2 separate regions of the Homo sapiens genome follow, and region 2 is linked to region 1. Evidence: fine-mapped expression QTL. A gene starts in region 1. The other region holds a variant in brackets. All regions are shown on one strand. Distances are between the middles of the regions.

Region 1 (8,319 bases):
GCAAGCAGAGGGTCAGATCCTGCCTCCGGGTCCACATTTCCCCAGGATGCCTGTGTCCTCCCTCCCATTCACTACACAGGGGGTCTCATTACCCTACCAACGCTGGAGAGGAGCCAGGGCTCAGGGAGGGCAGAGGAAGGGCAGAGGACGACTACCCAGCCCTTCCATCTCCTCCCCCAGGCGCCCCTCCTGTGGCATCGCGTCTCCACCCTGCTCAGAGCTTAATTCATCCTTGATTGTCACCATTTCCTGAGCATCTGCTGGGTGCTGGTCCCGTGCTGGGAGTCAAGGATTAGAAGCCACATGAGTCCGCACAGTACCTTTTGATTTTTTCAACCACTTAAAAATATAAAAACCATTCATAACTCACAAGCCATACAAGAGGCAGTGGGCTGGGTTTAGCCCACCGGCCGTGGTTTCAACTCTTGCTCTATCTATAGCAACAAAACGAACTTCAGCCATATCGTGGACTGGATCTATCTTAAAAAACATAATGCTCAGTGAAAGAAGCGGGTCACCGGAGAATACACACAGTATCCTTCAATTACACAAAGTTCACAAACAGGCAAAGCTAGTCCATATGGTTTCGGGATGTGTACTAATGATAAAACTACAAAGAAATGCCAGTAAGTGATCCCCCCACAAGCTGGGATGGGGGTACCTTTGGTGGGGCACGGAGCGGGGCAGTGTCTGTGGGGCGAGGGGAGTAGAAGGGGCTCTGAGGCACTGGGATGTTCTCATTCTTGACCTGGTGAGAGTCACACAGGACTTTGTTTTCTAGTGCTTACCACGCAGCACTGCGGTTTTTGTGCGATAGTTCACCATGACAGAGGAGACAGCAGTGAGACAGGACCCGCTGGGAGTGTGCCCGGACCCCTACCTGAGGGGCATTTGTGATCCACCCAACCACAATCTGCATCCCACTCCTGTGTCAGACTTCCCCTGCCGTCAAGCTGAGCCTCTCCCGGCCCTCCTGGCCCTGCCTTTTGGGCTCTCAGCCCTCATTCCCTCAGCCACCTCCCGCTCTGTCCCCACTCCGCGGGCAGCCTTTCCAGCACTCCCCTGCCTCTCCCCGCCCACCTCTGCCTGTGCCTCGAAAGTCCTTTATTGGGATTTAGACAAAGATGAAAAACAGAGGCTACTCCTGACAGAGGTCCGGAGCGGCGGGAAGGGAGGCAGGAGGTCTCAGCCGGGAGCAGGCAGGGGCTCCTGAACATCTTTTTTTATTATTATTACTTTTTTGAGACAGAGTCCTGCTCTGTCACCCAGGCTGGAGTTCAGTGGCACGATCTCAGCTCAGTGCAGCCTCTGCCTCCCAGGTTCAAGCAATTCTCCTGCCTCAGCCTCCTGAGTAGCTGGGATTACAGGCGCACACCACCTGGATCCAGAACAAACTTGTCTGGTAACTCCGGCCAAGGCTCACGGTCCCACCAGGCTGAGAGTGGGGCCTATGGCTTGTTCACGTCTGGGTCCCTCTGGTGCCTAGAACCGGTCCTTTTCAATGGATATGTGAGAAATAAATACAGCCCAGAGTTCTGGAAAGGCCACAGAGAGGGGACTGACATTTGCAGAGGACACTAAGGTGCAGAGAGGTTAAGTAATTGCCTGAGGTCACACAGCTGTCACCAGAAGAAGGCAGGCCTGGAACTCAGGTCTGTCCAGCCCCAAAGTCCTTGGGGAGGACTGAGGCCCATGGAAGCTGAGTTGCAGCTGCTCCTGGAAAAGCCAAGCCCCCAGCAATTCCTGTCTTGGGGAGACCACCAGTGGCTGCCTTTGAGAAAAGCAGGCTTTGCAGAGGGGTCAAGAAGCCAGAGGACAGGCCCAAGTCCCGGCTCAAGTGGGAGGAGGAGGATGGCTGGGAGCAGGAGCAGGTACCCAGGATGAGCTGGAGGCCGTGGGCTCACCAACTGCACCTCAAGTTTCCATGGCTCTGGCGAGGCTGGCAGGTGGCTGACACTCACTGAGGACTAATGACATACTGGGCACTCAGTCCTCAGGATGTGTTTAGGCAGGCAGTGTTATCACATCCATTTAACAGAGGAGACAATTGAGGCATAGCGATAGAAGTAATCTGCCCAGGGTGCCTGGGCAAGTAGCAGAGCTCAAATTCAAACTGGGCCGGGTGCGGTGGCTCACGCCTGTAATCCCAGCACTTTGGGAGGCCAAGGTGGGGGGATCACCTGAGGTCAGGAGTTCGAGACCAGCCTGGCCAACACGGTGAAAACCTGACTCTACTAAAAATACAGAAATTAGCCAGGCATGGTGGTGGGTGCCTGCAATCCCAGCTACTCAGGAGGCTGAGGCAGGAGAATCGCTTGAACCTGGGAGGCGGAGGTTGCAGTAAGCCGAGATGGTGCCACTGCACTCCAGCCTGGGCAACAGAGCGAGACTCCGTCTCAAAATAAATAAATAAATAAAAAATCAAACTGAAGATGAATGCCCCTGGCCTGTACTCCTAAGCCAGCATCCTCTCGCAAGTTCAGGGATACGATGCAGAATCAGGGACGCTGGCCTTCAGTGACACCCCTGTGGACACAGCTGAGGGATGCAAGCTGGGTTGGTACTGACAGGTGGCAGAGCTGGTTGCACCAGGCTGATGGTTAAGGCTGATGGTTACGGTCAGGGGAGGTTTGGAAGATGTGGGAGGGGCAAGATTCCTTCCAGCAAACCCTCAAAGCTCTGAGACGAGAAGGCAGGGGTGTGACATGGAGTGACAGATAGATGAAGGGGGATGCACAGGGGTAGGACAAAGAGCGGGTTGGGGGTTGGGCACAGTGGCTCACGCCTGTAATCCCAGCACTTTGGGAGGCCAAGGCGGGTGGATCACCTGAGGTCAGGAGTTCGAGACCAGCCTGGGCAACACTGTGAGTCTCTATCTCTACGAAAAAATTTAAAAAATAGCTGGGTGTGGTGGCACACGCTGTGGTTCCAGTTATTCGGGAGGCTGAGGTGGGAGGATCATTTGAGTGAGGGAGGCAGAGGTTGTAGTGAGCTGAGATTGCACCACTGCACTCCAGCCTGGTGGACGGAGCGAGACCCTGTCTCAAAAAAATAAAAACAGGACGGGCACAGTGGCTCACGCCTGTAATCCCAGCACTTTGGGAGGCTGAGGCGGGCAGATCACCTGCGGTCAGGAGTTCAAGACCAGCCTGGCCAACATGGCAAAACTCTGTCTCTACTAAAAATACAAAAATTAGCTGGGCATGGTGGTGGGCACCTGTAGTGCCAGCTACTCGTGAGGCTGAGGCAGGAGAATCACTTGAACCCAGGAGGCAGAGGTTGCCGTGAACCAAGATGGCGCCATTGCACTTCAGCCTGAGTGACAAGAGTGAAACTCTCAAAAAAAAAAAAAAAAAAAAAAATCATGGGTGGGGGTTTGTCTGCTGCTCCAAGGGACTCTAGGACACCGTAAGGGTGTTTTCACCTCTTGTGAAAGAACAGTTTCTCTTTTATGTAATGTTTGTTGCAATACCGGGTGGGAGGGGGTGGCACTGGGAATGTTTTGTTATAGTTGAGACTGTTACAAAAGAGCTTTTCCCCAGTAGCACCCCATAAAACCTCTTACTGCTCGGTTACCAGGGTGTGCTGGGTGTCTTTTGGGGAGGAGGAACCACACAAAGGGAAAGGATGGGAATTGGGGGGAAATTAAATTAAAAATGACTGTAGTTGAGACACATTGACACTAACAGGCTGCATTTCCGGGGTCTGGCCGTGTTTGCACCAACTGTCTGGGGTGTGGGGCGAGGCGTGCACAGGATTAAAGGAGATGGTGTCCTAGGGCTCTGGGCTGCAGCCTGGGGAGGTACACACAGGTCAGCCTTTGCCTCCCCAGGGTAAGTTTCCGGTGAAGAACATTCTTTACAAGTAAGAGGATCCTCTGAGCCTACTGGCCGAGGGGCCCAGCTTGGGGCTGAGGCTGGCCTGGGGCTGAGGCTGGCCTCTACTTACCGGCTAGGTCTTGAGCAAACGAACTGGCTTCCCTGGGCCTCCTTTTCCCTGTCCTTAAAATGGTGCAGGTGAGGACAATAGGAGCCCCAAGGGGTGCTGTGAGGGTGGCCAGTACGTGCCCTGCTAAGGGCTCCATAAAGCCTAATTTGTGGTCATGAGAGGGGGTGCAGCAGGACAGGGTGGGGGCAGCTCTTGAAAGCCCCATAAACTAAGAGAATAGAAAGGAAGGCACCCTGTCTCCACAGTGGAGGCCACCCCTTTGGCCAGAGGGAGGGTTGGCTGCTGCCCGGCCAAGGAGGGGCAGAGAGAATCTGGCAGAATTCACTGAGCCCTCGTGCTGGCAGCCCTGGAATGGGACCCTCCTGGGCCGTCCCTGGCCTGATGAACTGGCCCTGAGGCTACCTACCCCACAGCTTGGCTCGGATCCCGGCCACCCAGCTTCCAAGAAAGCCTGGAACCAGGAAAGGAGCGCCGCTGGCGTGGAAAGACACACTTGCATCCTAAAACACTTGGCCTCTGGTTGTGTTTCAGGAACTGGGAGGTGAGACCCTTTCTGGTGACTGACAGTTTTGTGCCTCTGGGCGCAGAGCCCTGTGGCTGGCCCTGGTATCCCCCCCTCCCCCCTCTCCCCGCTCTCCCTGGCCAATGCCAGCAACAACCCAGAGGGTAGCCCCACCACTTGCCAGGTTCAACGCAGTGTCCCCCGCAGCAGCCACGTGAGGTTCCTCGGATGGGGAGCTGTCCCTCCCCCCTGCCCCGCCCCTGGCCCCAGCCACACAGCGCCCACCCTCCTTGTTTAAGGGCCAGGAGGCCAGACTGCTGGGGCAAAGCTGTCACAGCAGCGAGGGAGAGAGCGCTGTCCCCCTCCCCTTCAAAAGCCACCTTGGCAAGGCATTAGCTAAACATCTTCTCGGTCCCAGAAGGCTTCCCCTGTGAAGTCTGCAGCGTTCAAACGACAACCAGCAAATCCCCAGAGACAGGTCCCTGGGAATTAGCTGCGCCGGGCGGGATGAAAGCCGCTCTGATGTTCTGGAGCGAGAGAGTAGAGAGAAGGAGGAAGACAGACACTACCTGCCAGTCGCAGGGTCCCGGGCAGCAGCAGCACGCCAAGGAGGAGCCAGGGGGCTGCGGGGAGCCCAGGAGGGCGTGGGAGGCCTGGCAGGGCCCGCCACCTCACAGGCTGGTTCTCCATCTGGGGGCCTGCTTGTCTGCGGCGACTCTTTAGTTCACAGGAGGGGACGGCCGGCGCTGACAGCTTCCCCTTTGCTTTCCCCACGAAGCTCCTCCCTGGCAGCCCCTGACCTTCCGCTCAGAAGCAAAGCTGGAACAGCCCAGCAGGGTGGCCGCCAGATGAGGAACCTGGCACTGAGACTGGTCCAGGCCACACAACCAGAAGAAGAGCTGGAGACGGGACCCAAGCCTCCCCACTCCAACCCCTGGTGGGCTTCACCCTGTCTCGGCCCCTTTCCAGCAGGGGCCCCGTCCAGGAGACACTGGTAACTGTGCAGAGGGATCATGGGATTTCCATGAGTGACTTCGGGCCTTGGTTTAGCCTCTCACTTCTGAAACACTTTTAAAACGACCACAAGCATGTTCACACAAACTTCTCTAAAATATTCTGAGAATCCCTTAATAATGTGTTTACCAAAGGTAGGTTTTTTGGTGAGGGGTGGTAGGGAGGCTGGGGTGAAGGGCAGGAGCCTCATGTTCCCAGCCCTAGAGAGGGCCAAACACCCAGGGCAGGTGAAAGGCAGGCTGCCCATCATTCACCCAGCGAGAACCTCTGTGGGTCCCCTGCAGAGGCCCAGGAGACGCCTCCTCTCTGGTCCATCTCTAACGTCAGCTCCTCCCTGTGGCTGCCCTAAAGCTTAGCTCACTCGGCCTCCCAACTGTGAGACCCTCGAACTGCTTCCCCATTGGCTGCAGGTCACAGCCCCTGCTCTCACTTCTAGCAGCATCAGCCGGGGACAGGAATTGTTTGCTGCCGGGACCCCCTTCCCCAGCAGACTGGGAGCCCCTCACCCTTGGCACCCACACATCTGCCTGCGTGTCTGGAGTGGCAGAGGAAAGGGGCTGGGGTGTGGTGATGGCTGGTGGAGCTGGAGGCACCTGGTACATGGAAGACGCAGGCGGGAAGGTGGCTGAGTTTCAGCGCATGCTGAGCGCTTACCTCCCTTCTCTGCAGGTGTCCCTTCACTCACCAGATAAATGTGATGATCCCAGTTGTACAAAAGAGAAGACCTCGGCCCCAGGAGGCAAAACAACATGCCTAGGATCAGGGCAGGTCTGTGGGGCGGGCATTTGAACTGCCAGTGGTATGATGTCCGAGCCTTCTCCCACCCTGCTACTGCCTGCTCAGGTGTGTCCAGCTGCAGCCCCCGGTGACGGCATCATGAGATCCATTTCAGTTCTTTGCACACATGCTTTTCCCTGGGCTGCTCCAAACATGAACAGTGAAAGCCTAAAGACGTTTCCACCAATGCCACGAGCACTGGGAGGCTGGCAAGAGCAGGGGCCGCCCACCAGGGGAGGAAGACATATGAACAGGAGAAGTTTCCTACCGCGCAGGGGGCAGGCGGGGACCCCAGTGTTATTGACTGTTGATCCATCACAGTGATACATGCTCACATATGTCACAGTGAGATGCAGACCCGCTGCTTCACGCTATTCCTGGCTCCTGGGAGTAGCAGGTTGTCTAAGCACCTTGATGCCATGGTGATAGACCTCGTGTCAATGCCTCAGGGTACACGGGGAGCATTGGAAAAGCATCGGTCTGTGCCTCTACAAGTCTCATTACGACTTGGCACTGGGAGGCAGCTGAATGCCAAACTGCCTCGGAACAAGGGAGCCTGCTCTTCCAGCCCTGGTGCCGCCTCCGCTCCTGCCCCTGTGCCAGCTCACTGACCCTACCTCTCAGCCTGTCACGGTGCCCCCCACACCCCAACTCTGTACCTCGGACTCCCGGGAGTTCTGCCGCCTCTGAGTCTGGGTCTAGCCTGCTGCACACCTGGTTTCCACGCTTGCCTGCCTGAGCTGCCTGTCTTCCTCCCCTCTCCTTCTTGAGCCTGGCCCAGGGGGTGCAGGAATGGACGGATGGGTGAGCATAAGGCAGGGAGAAGCCTTCCTCCAGGCTTGATATGAAGGCAGGTGCCCAACACCACGCTGGTGCACAAGAGGCCTCAAGGGAAGGGGTAGCCTCTGGGAGGCAGGGTGGGAGGAGGCGTGCATACTCCCCAGGCAGGCCCTGGGCTGTGGAGCGCAGACATGACTGGACAAGAAGCAGCTGAGGGTCCCAGCTCATTGCCCAGTTTCTGAGACGCTCTGCAGCCACGCAGCCTCCTGGGGAGAGGCAGGGACGCACCTTGGCAAGGAGCCCAGCAGCCCTGGCTGCGCTGTCGGGGCCTCGTGTCTGGCCCTGATCCTCCTCGGGAGCCAGGGGGATAGAAATAAAACCGCAGCGCATCCAGGAGCCTCATTTCTACCAAAACTTTCTAGCACCTCTCATGTGCTTCCTCTCCTGTGCCCTCAGCCAGAGCTGTGAATAAACAGTAAAGGCCCCAAAGGCTGAAGGCGGAGCAGAGGAATGAGGAGGCTCTGTGGGTGTCCCAGGGGCAGCTTCAGTGGCACAGCCTTCGAGCTAGGCCTTGGCAGCTGAATTTGCAGGTGAGGTCCCTGGGGACCACACGTCTCAGCCACTGGCTTTTGCCCAGACCTCCGTCCATTCCCCGTTTATCCGTGCATCTATGCCTCACAGTATACTGAACACCTGCCCTGCCCTGGGCCCTGGCCTCACGGAGGCTGTAGAAGTGAAAGAGCCTAGCCTCCCTGGGAAGCCTAGGGGCACGGCAACCTCAGCAGAGTGAAGCAATAATAGAGCAGTTCCGGGAAGCTTCCAAGCGCCTGACACTGCTCCAGGGGACCTGCTCTCCTTGCCAGTTTAATCCTCACTGCAGCCCTATGGGGCAGGCACTCTAATCACCTCCATTGTACAGATGAGGAAACTGAGGAACAGGGAGGTTAAAGTAATTTCTGAGTGGCAGCCCTGAAGGAGGTGGAAGCTGGGTGGGGAAATGGGGGAGCCCAGGTGTCCCCTGCAGTCCCCAGGGGCCTCCTCGACACCAAGACTAAGGCTTTCCAAATGAGACCACAATTACTGGCCTCTGTTTTCTTTTTCTTTTCTTTCTTTTTTTTTTTTTTTTGAGACAGAATTTTTCTCTTGTTGCCCAGGCTGGAGTGCAATGGCGCGATCTCGGCTCACCGTAAACTCTGCCTCCCGGGTTCAAGTGATTCTCCTGCCTCAGCCTCCCGAGTAGCTGGGATTACAGGCATGTGCCACCACGCCCGGCTAATTTTGTATTTTTAGTAGAGATG
Region 2 (8,319 bases), 49 kb before region 1:
TTGGGAGGCTGAGGCAGGCGGATCACTTGAGGTCAGGAGTTTGAGACCATCCTGGCCAACGTGGTGAAACCCTGTCTCTACTAAAAATACAAAAAATTAGCCAGGCGTGGTGGCACTCATCTGTGATCCCAGCTACTTGGGAAGCTGAGGCAGGAGAATTGCTTGAACCTGGGAGACAGAGGTTGCAGTGAGCCAAGATTGCACCACAGCACTCCAGCCTGGGTGATAGGAGGGAAACCCTGTCTCAAAAAAAAAAAAAAAAAAAAAAAAAAAAAAAAGCCAAGCATAGTGGCTCACACCTGTAATCCCAGCATTTTGGGAGGCCGAGGTAGGTGGATTTCTTGAAGTCAGGAGTTTGAGACCAGCCTGGCCAATATGGTGAAACCCCATCTCCACTAAAAATACAAAAAAAATTAGCTGGGCCTGGTGGCACGTGCCTGTAGTCCCAGCTACTCGGGAGGCTGGGGCAGAAGAATTGCTTGAACCCAGGAGGTGGAGATTGCAGTGTGCCCAGATCACACCACTGCACTCCAGCCTGGGCCTCACAGAGAGACTCCATCTCAAAAAAAAAAAAAGAAAGAAAGAAAGAAGAAAAGAAAAAAAAAAGTGAAGGAGTGGTAGGAGTGGTAAGAGCCCTGAATGTGAGACTAAGGGGTTGAGCCCCGATCCTATGGACAGTGGAAACCACTGTGAGTTTTGGTATAGGGTGTGAGGTAGGGGTCATGTAGAGGTTTGGCTCTCCCAGCACCAATTGTTGAAAAGACTGTTCCCCATTGAATGATGGTGGCCCCCTTGTTGGAATGAATTGACCATTACCATAAGGTATGGCAGGCTTTTGAGAGAGGAATCATGTGGTCAGATATGTATTATAGAAAGATCAGGTGAGACTTGTTTGGACTGGGAATGGCTGGGAGGAGGAGGGGTTGGAGGGAGGCTCTTATGGGTGGACTTGATGGCAGGGGGACAGAAGGGGCATCTGGGGAGAAGAGACATCCCTGGATCAGCCCATGGCGGGCAGCAAGGTACAGGGCTATGTCCTGAGCCAAGGCCAGGATCTGGCCCACTTGGGCCTGTGGAACTCACTGGGGGATGGGGATGGGGCAGTCAAGGGAGAGACAGAGAAAATGCCCCCACTCCTCGGCCCCTCAAGGTCCTCAAAGTGGTAAAATAAAACCCACTCCAGATATAGCCATTTGCAAAGTCAGTTTTCAGGTAATGAAAGGATTGTAATGGAAAAACAATGCCAATTACAGCAGCATTATCCGGGATTATAAAGCTTCTAAGAGGCGGCTCACACCTCCAGGCATGCTGTGCCTGGGAATTTCCAGGGTAGACTTGGGATCAGAGCATACAGGCTGCCAGGATCCAGGCCTCACAGTGGGCGTGGGCTGCTGGGGAGGCCCAACCCCTGGGGCTCTATGGATCTGCCTCCATTTCCCCAAAGAGATAGAATACCGGGAGGCAGGAGGACCCCCCCAACTTCACACACACACACACACACACACACACACACACACACTTCTGAGAAATTGGATAAGAGGAATGTGAGGCTGCCAGCCCATCTCTGAAGGAAACCTGTTCTTCTGTGGGCTTCCCTACTCCTGGGGACACCACATCCCTCCATGGCTCTTTCTGCCTCCCCCATCACCTCCCCTACCTGGCCTTGGGGACAGCAGGACTGCACACATGCCCTTGGGGACAGCAGGACTGCACACACGCCGAGGCAGCCCAGCGTTGCTCCTCCTGGGCTGTGTGACCTGGAGCCAGTCAGCTGTTCTGAGTGGTAGCTTCTGCTTCGATAAAATGGGGAGATCACCCCTGCCCACCATCACAGACCTATTTTCAGGATTAAATGAAATATTCTAGATAAAGAGTCCGAGGAATAGAAACCAGTCCAACCTCGGGGCCTGGCGATTTGGTGGTGACTGTTAGAACAGTGAACTTCTATGCACTGGGTCCCAGGAATCCCTCCTCATTTCCCATAGGGAAAGTTTTGCAGATGTGTGTGTGTACAAGGATGTTCCCTGCAGCCCCTTATGTGAGGTTGAAAAATCATAAACAACTGAAAAGGCCTTCGATAGGGGGCCTGATTAAATTAGGATCCATCTGTCCTGCAGGATCCTTTGCTGTAATTGGAGTCTGGCAGCTCCTGTGTGCTGTCTCCGGCAGATCCCACCACGTGGGGCTGCATCAACAAAGCAAGTGCAAACAACACCTACAAAATGAATGCATCGCGGCTGTTCGGAAGCCCGCACGGCGCTCCACATTTTACATGTTCACAGGTAGACACCTAGATGCCATAAAAGCAGCGACGAAGAAAACACTCCCAAATGACCCGATTGGTTACTACTGGGGAGGGGACGGGTATGGAGGCTGGGAGGTGGCAGGTGCATCAGAGGAGTTTCACTTTGCTGTAGTTTTAATGTTTCACTGTAACATATGCTTCTGTCACCCACATATGTCACCTCCAGACACACACAAAACACACGCCAACACCAAGTTCAGAGAGTCTGGCCTGACCCGCGCTCAGTCAAGGCTGAGGCCATCATTCTGACCACAGGTCAGGGAAGGGAGACTGGGGAAGCCCCCTCAGGTGGACAAATGACATCCCCTGGCATTGCAAGGAATGGAGTGACGCCACTCAGCCTGGCTGGACTGAGCCAACGGCCCACCTCTCCTGCATAAGCTGTCTGCCAAGAAAACTATTGAACTACATAAAAATCCATCCCTGAAATCCCAGAGGCATCTTTAGAATGGAGCATGGACTTTACATTAGAATGTGCTTTAACAAAAAAAAAAAGAGAGAGAGAGAGAAAGAAAAAGGAAAAGCAGGTTTTGCCTGTAACTTGAGTTCAGGTTTGTGACACTGGGTGGCCAAAGAGCACTGCCTACCCTGGCCGAGGCCACCAGGCTCAGTTCCTGCAATATTGGCTGTGAAGGGAACCCCAGCCACACCGGGTTCAGCGCAGAACCAGCACATGTTCCCATGGAAACTCTGCTGCCAGAATCCCCTGGAAATGTTTGCTGAGGAGGGGCCACCGTTTACCGCACCCACTGCAAGTTCTGGACTGGTGGTAGAGGCTGGGCACAGACTGACCTCCAGAAGAAGTCCATGGGCCCTCTGCTAGGGTGGCACCAGACTTCCCTGGTCCCACAGGACAGCCAGTGGCCTCCTAGCTTAGTTCTGGGCCCCCGCCTGCAAGCACACGTGGCAAGGAGGGCTTCAGCAGGCTCGCAGAACCGAGTGGCAAGGCCCCTGCTCCCAGAAGCTGGTTTCCCAGGATGATTTTCTCAAGCAAGTGCTGACAGAGCAGGAGTCAAGCGGGGGTGGGGTTGGAGGCTGAAACCCATTGAAGGGGTCAACTTCCTAGAGGCAGGCAGGGATGCCTGGGGGTGCCAGAC[G/A]TGGCTGAGATGTTTCTGCAGAGGGGAGGTTGGGAAGACCTAGGAGGGCAGGGCAGGCTGGGCCGGGAGAGATGGTGGGAAATCCCACCAGGTCAGGGGCCAGTGGGCAGAGGGAAGCATCAGCTGAGACCCAGAGACAGGGCTGCCCTGCTGCGGTAGGGCCCAGGGGCAGGGGCCTGCAGGGGCTGCCTGGGGCTTCCCTTCCCCACCCTAACTCCAGTCCCCACTCAGGACTGCTCACATCCGTCCGTCCTGGAAGGTCCACAGCTCCCCTTCACCTAGGCCTCACCTACTCCACTCAAGCCACCCCATCCCCCTTAGCTTTTCCCCTCCAGGCCCATTCATTCAGCTCCTGCTAAGCCAGCACCCTCCTTCCCTCACCTCTCTGCTTACCTTGCTCCCACCCCCAGCTCTGGGCAGCCCTGGCCTGTCCATCTGATCGTGCTACCCCGTAGGCACTCCTTAAAGGCATGGCTGCAGAGAGCCTGGGCCCAGCTCCCAGGGAGGCCTGCCTCTCACTTAGACTCCTCTGTACTGCCCCAGAAGCCTATTCCTTCTGAAGGACGAGTCTTGAAGGAAATGCACACCCACTGAGCTTCTGCCTGAGCCAGGGAGTCCCCTTCTGTCCTTTCTGAGACACTGAGTAGTGTTTGTTTGTTTGTTTATTTGGACAGAGCGTGCTCTGTAGCCCAGGCTGGTGTGCAGTGGTGCCACTTCGGCTCACTGCAACCTCTGTCTCCCAGGTTCAAGAGATTCTCCTGCCTTAGCCTCTCGAGTAGCTGGGACTACAGGTGCGTGCCACCACACCAGGCTAATTTTTGTATTTTTAGTAGAGACGGGGTTTCACCACGTTGGCCAGGCTGGTCTCAAACTCCTGGCCTCAAGTGATCCACCCGCCTCGGCCTCCCAACATGCTGGGATTACAGGCATAAGCCACTACGCCTGGCCTGAGCTGTCTTGACTGTCACTGCAAACTGAGGCTCAGGTGGCCAGTGACTTGCCCAAGTCCACAAGGCTGTGGGAGGTGGAGCAGGGATTCAAGGGAGGCCCTGAGGCCACCCAGCCTGGGTGGGTCTCAAAAGCAATTTTCTTCTCTTCCCTCCTCCACCCATTCATAGTGGAAAGCAAGCCTGCACCCCAGGAGCTCCCATTCATACCCTCTCTGTCCCCTCTCTGTTCTTCCTCCTCCCGCCTGCCCCATGCACCTCCCACCCTGAAGTTCCCTGCCACCCCTCGCCCTGTGCCAGCTTGTCTCTGCAGGCTCTCAGTCCTGGGGGCTGGAGAACAGGTGCTCAGTCCTCTTTGCTGCCCACAGAAGTCTCAGAACATTCTTGCCCCACCCTCCCTTGGGCCAAAGCCCTTTAGGGTCCCGTCCTTTCATGCTGTGCTCTCCTCCTCCTCCTCCTCCTCCCTGCCTCTCTCCTTGCTCACTGAAGACCTCAGCACCCACTGCCTCCCAGCCTTGCCCTGAACCAAGCACAGACGACCACCACGCTGGCAATGTCTCTGTCCACCAGAGGGGTGATGGGTCAGCCCCCAAGAACCTCCTACGCCACAGGGAGGAGTTGGAATTTTATTCCAAGTGAGGCAAAAACCATGCAAGGTATAGAGCAGGGGAGGCCAAGGCCAGGTGTGGGTTTAATCGGGGTCTGTCGGTGGCAGGGCAGCTGCAGGGAGGCCGTGTTGGTGATGCCTGGGCCAGGGCACAGTGGTAAAGTTTAACCCAGGCTCCCCTGTCTACCCCTGAAAAAGACTGGAAAATGCTGAGTCCCAGCCAAGGGTCCAGGGTCTAGGAGCTGAGGTCAGAGAGGCCCAGGAGGTGGGGGAGGCAGGCCCAGTGAGGTGGCCCTCTCCTGGTCTTGCTGGCTTCGGTTTTCCCAGGGGAGCTCACTGCACCCTGAGCGGCATTGTCCCCCATTGCCCTGACCCTTGCCCCCACCTCCTTGGCTGGTGGAGCCAGGAGCCTGGGAGGCCCCTGTGCACACCTGGCAGCTTCACCTCCCCAAACAGGCCCGGAGTTCATTCAAATCCAGCCTCTGGGAGCAGGGGCCTTGCCACTCGGTTATGTGAGCCTGCTAAAGCCCTCCTTGCCATGTGTGCTTGCAGGCGGGGGCCCAGAACCAAGTTGGGAGGCCACTGGCTGTCCTGTGGGACCAGAGAAGTCTGGTGCCACCCTAGCAGGGCCAAGGGACTTCTTCTGGACGTCAGTCTGTGCCCAGCCTCTACCACCAGCTTTCCCTTCCCTGCAGGGAGGGGCATGACCTGCAGAACCAAAGGTGCTTCTGTGAGCCAGTAGCCCAGTGCTGCTTGGGGGCAGGGGCGGGGCCTGTGCCTTGGGTTCCCCCCCCTCCCTGGGCACATTTGGGGTTGGGGCAGCCCACACGGTGGGGTGGGAAGATTGACCTGCCCATTTTACAAATGAGCAAAGGTGGGAGAACTCAGGGAGACATGGGGGAGCAGAGGGAGGAAGCAGAGCCCAACAGCCCGGGGCACCCGGACCCCAGCCACTGCCTGCCTGTGGATGGGTTTCTGGCCACGGTGCAGGGCTACTGCGAGGAGGAAATGAGGGTGATGTGGGCACCTGAAACAGCAGAAATGGCTCAGGGCCAGGCACTGGGGAGCCACTGTCCCCATGGGGCTTGAGCTTCTGCCTCAGAGGGACCTTCCGGCTGCCATTGAGGGTCCCAGCACCAAACCCCACAGCTGGACCACTTGGGACCTCAATCCACAGGGGGCCAGGGCTGCGGCCTATGGCAGATAAAGATAGAGGAGGAGGGCTGGATGAAGCCACAGGTGGTGGGCACAGGATAGGCCAGACAGAAGGGACTTTGGGGGACTCCACCTTGGGTAGAAGGAGGGACAGCTGAGGTCCTGTGGTGGAGAAGGCCTGGAGCAGAGGGTGACCAAGGAGATGACAGAGTGCACGTACAGGGCCAGGCCAATGGGAGTGGGAACCCTTGGGAGAGGGAGCTTCAGGCCATTCATTCAGTTCCTGTTTAGCCAGCACCCTCCTCCCCTCATCTGTCCCTCTGCCCTCACCCCAACATGCCAGAATCTCCTTCCTCTCCAGCTTGTACCCAAGCCCTCTCTGCTCCATGCCCCCAGCCTGCTGACCACCTCTCAGCCATGTCCTGGGCCTCCAGATCTGTCCCTGATCCTAGTCTTGCCTCTGAGGGGTCCATCATCCTTGTCTGTCCCCCAGACCTCCCACGCCAGCCCCTGCTCCCACCCTGCCTGGCTGCCTCGTGCCTCTGGCCCAGCTGGGTAGGTAGGGATTTGCATAGCTGCTCCCCAGCTCCTCCATACCTCGGCTCCCCACACAGCACTGCTAGGCGCCCCTGCAGGGTCCTCCCTCAGCTCAGAGGCTGCCCTACTGGCTGAGGTGCAGGCTGGTGCCAAGAGAGCATGCTGCTCTGTCAGCATGAGGCAGTGAGCAGGGCTCTGGGCAAGGGTGGCATCCAGGAAAGCCCTTGAAGACTGAGGGGCGCTTTGCTGGTTGGGCCAAGGGAGGAAGGGCCTGCCTGGCAGAAGGAACAGCCTGGGCAAAGGCCCCAAGATGGGAAAGCCTTGGTGGTTGGGGCATAGAATGGGGGGGCAGTGGGGCCGGCCAAGACAGGAAGGGCCTTGAATGTGAGGGTGAAATGATGGGGTGTCCCTGGGGGCCTTACTCCCAACTCAGATCAAGTCCTTTGGTGGCAGGGGCTGCCCCGGTCCTCTGACCCAGGGCAAGCTCTATGAGCGGTGGAGCCCATCCTAGAGATTTTCATAGACCAGGTTAAGTTCGCCATCATCTTCGAATCTATGCGGTCTCTCCTGGATAGAAAAGAAGAAAGGGAGGGAAGGAGAGAAAGAGAGAGAATGACCATTAAGAATGAACTTGCACTAATTTAGTTTTAGCCAGAGGGCAACAGATCACTTCCTGTGTAGCTTTGATGGGGGGCCTGCCCTCTGTCTCCAAGCCCACCTCCCCAGCCTCTTCCCCCACCATGCTGCCCCCACCCCTGCCCATTGCCCTCCAGCCACATGGGCCTGCCCTTCCAGCCTCAGAGCTTCCCCCACAGCTCTGCCCTCTGCCTTCTGCCCTATGTGTGGGATGCGCCTCCTCCCACAGACACACCTGTTCCATGACTGCCCCCTACTCACTCTGCCTGCGGGCTCATCATAGGGTCCCAGGGACCCCCTCCCTCCCTCCCCACCCTGGCTGGTCCCTCCCAGAAGAACACCCCTCACAACAGGGCTACAAATGCCTCTGTGTGTCCATGGGGTCAGCGACCTATTCCTGCAGACTATGGCTCCCAGAGGGTAGGGACATGCCTAGTTCTCCTGTCCAGCACCCCAGGGCCTGGCACAGGGTGGGCACTGCCGGAGATGTCCCTGCTTTCACTCAGGGTCTAGTTGAGGGCTGAGTATAGAAAGGGCTTTGAGAACAGGCGATTTAACAAATAGTGCCAGCCCGAGCCAGAGAAGGCCAAGTGCCAGGCGCCCGCACTCCCTGACAGATGTTCCAAGAGGCCTGTGGGCTCCTGTTCTGGCTGAACAACGCCTCACGCTTGACGGTGCTGGAAGCTCTGGTGCAGATGTTATTCAGCTTGGAACACATTTGAATTCAGAGGCAGTTGGTATTGCAGGAAAACACTGCTCATCCACTTTACAGATGAGCAAACAGGTTTAAGAGAGAAAGTATGGGCCGGGCGCGGTGCCTCACACCTTTAATCCCAGCACTTTGGGAGGCTGAGGTGGGTGAATCATGAGGTCAGGAGTTCGAGACCAGCCTGGCCAACATGGTGAAAACCTGTCTGTACTAAAAACACAAAAAATTAGCTGGGCACAGGGGCGGGCGCCTGTAATCCCAGCTACTCGGGAGGCTGAGGCAGGAGAATTGCTTGAACCTGAGAAGTGGAGGTTGCAGTGAGCTGA

The links.
Region 2: its variant is fine-mapped to the expression of NFAM1 in whole blood (INTERVAL, PIP 0.96).

What each region holds. Positions count from the first base shown.
Region 1 is chr22:42,427,218-42,435,536 of GRCh38, forward strand. It overlaps NFAM1 (NFAT activating protein with ITAM motif 1), which reads right to left and starts at 5,186. Exons shown (of 6, transcript NM_145912.8): 1 at 5,020-5,186. The coding sequence starts at 5,140.
Region 2 is chr22:42,378,006-42,386,324 of GRCh38, forward strand. NFAM1 (NFAT activating protein with ITAM motif 1) reads right to left here. Exons shown (of 6, transcript NM_145912.8): 6 at 2,402-7,215. The coding sequence ends at 7,156. Among named protein-coding and RNA genes, the nearest start is that of LINC01315, 13 kb to the left of the region's middle. The variant G/A (reference allele first, on the strand shown) is at 3,403.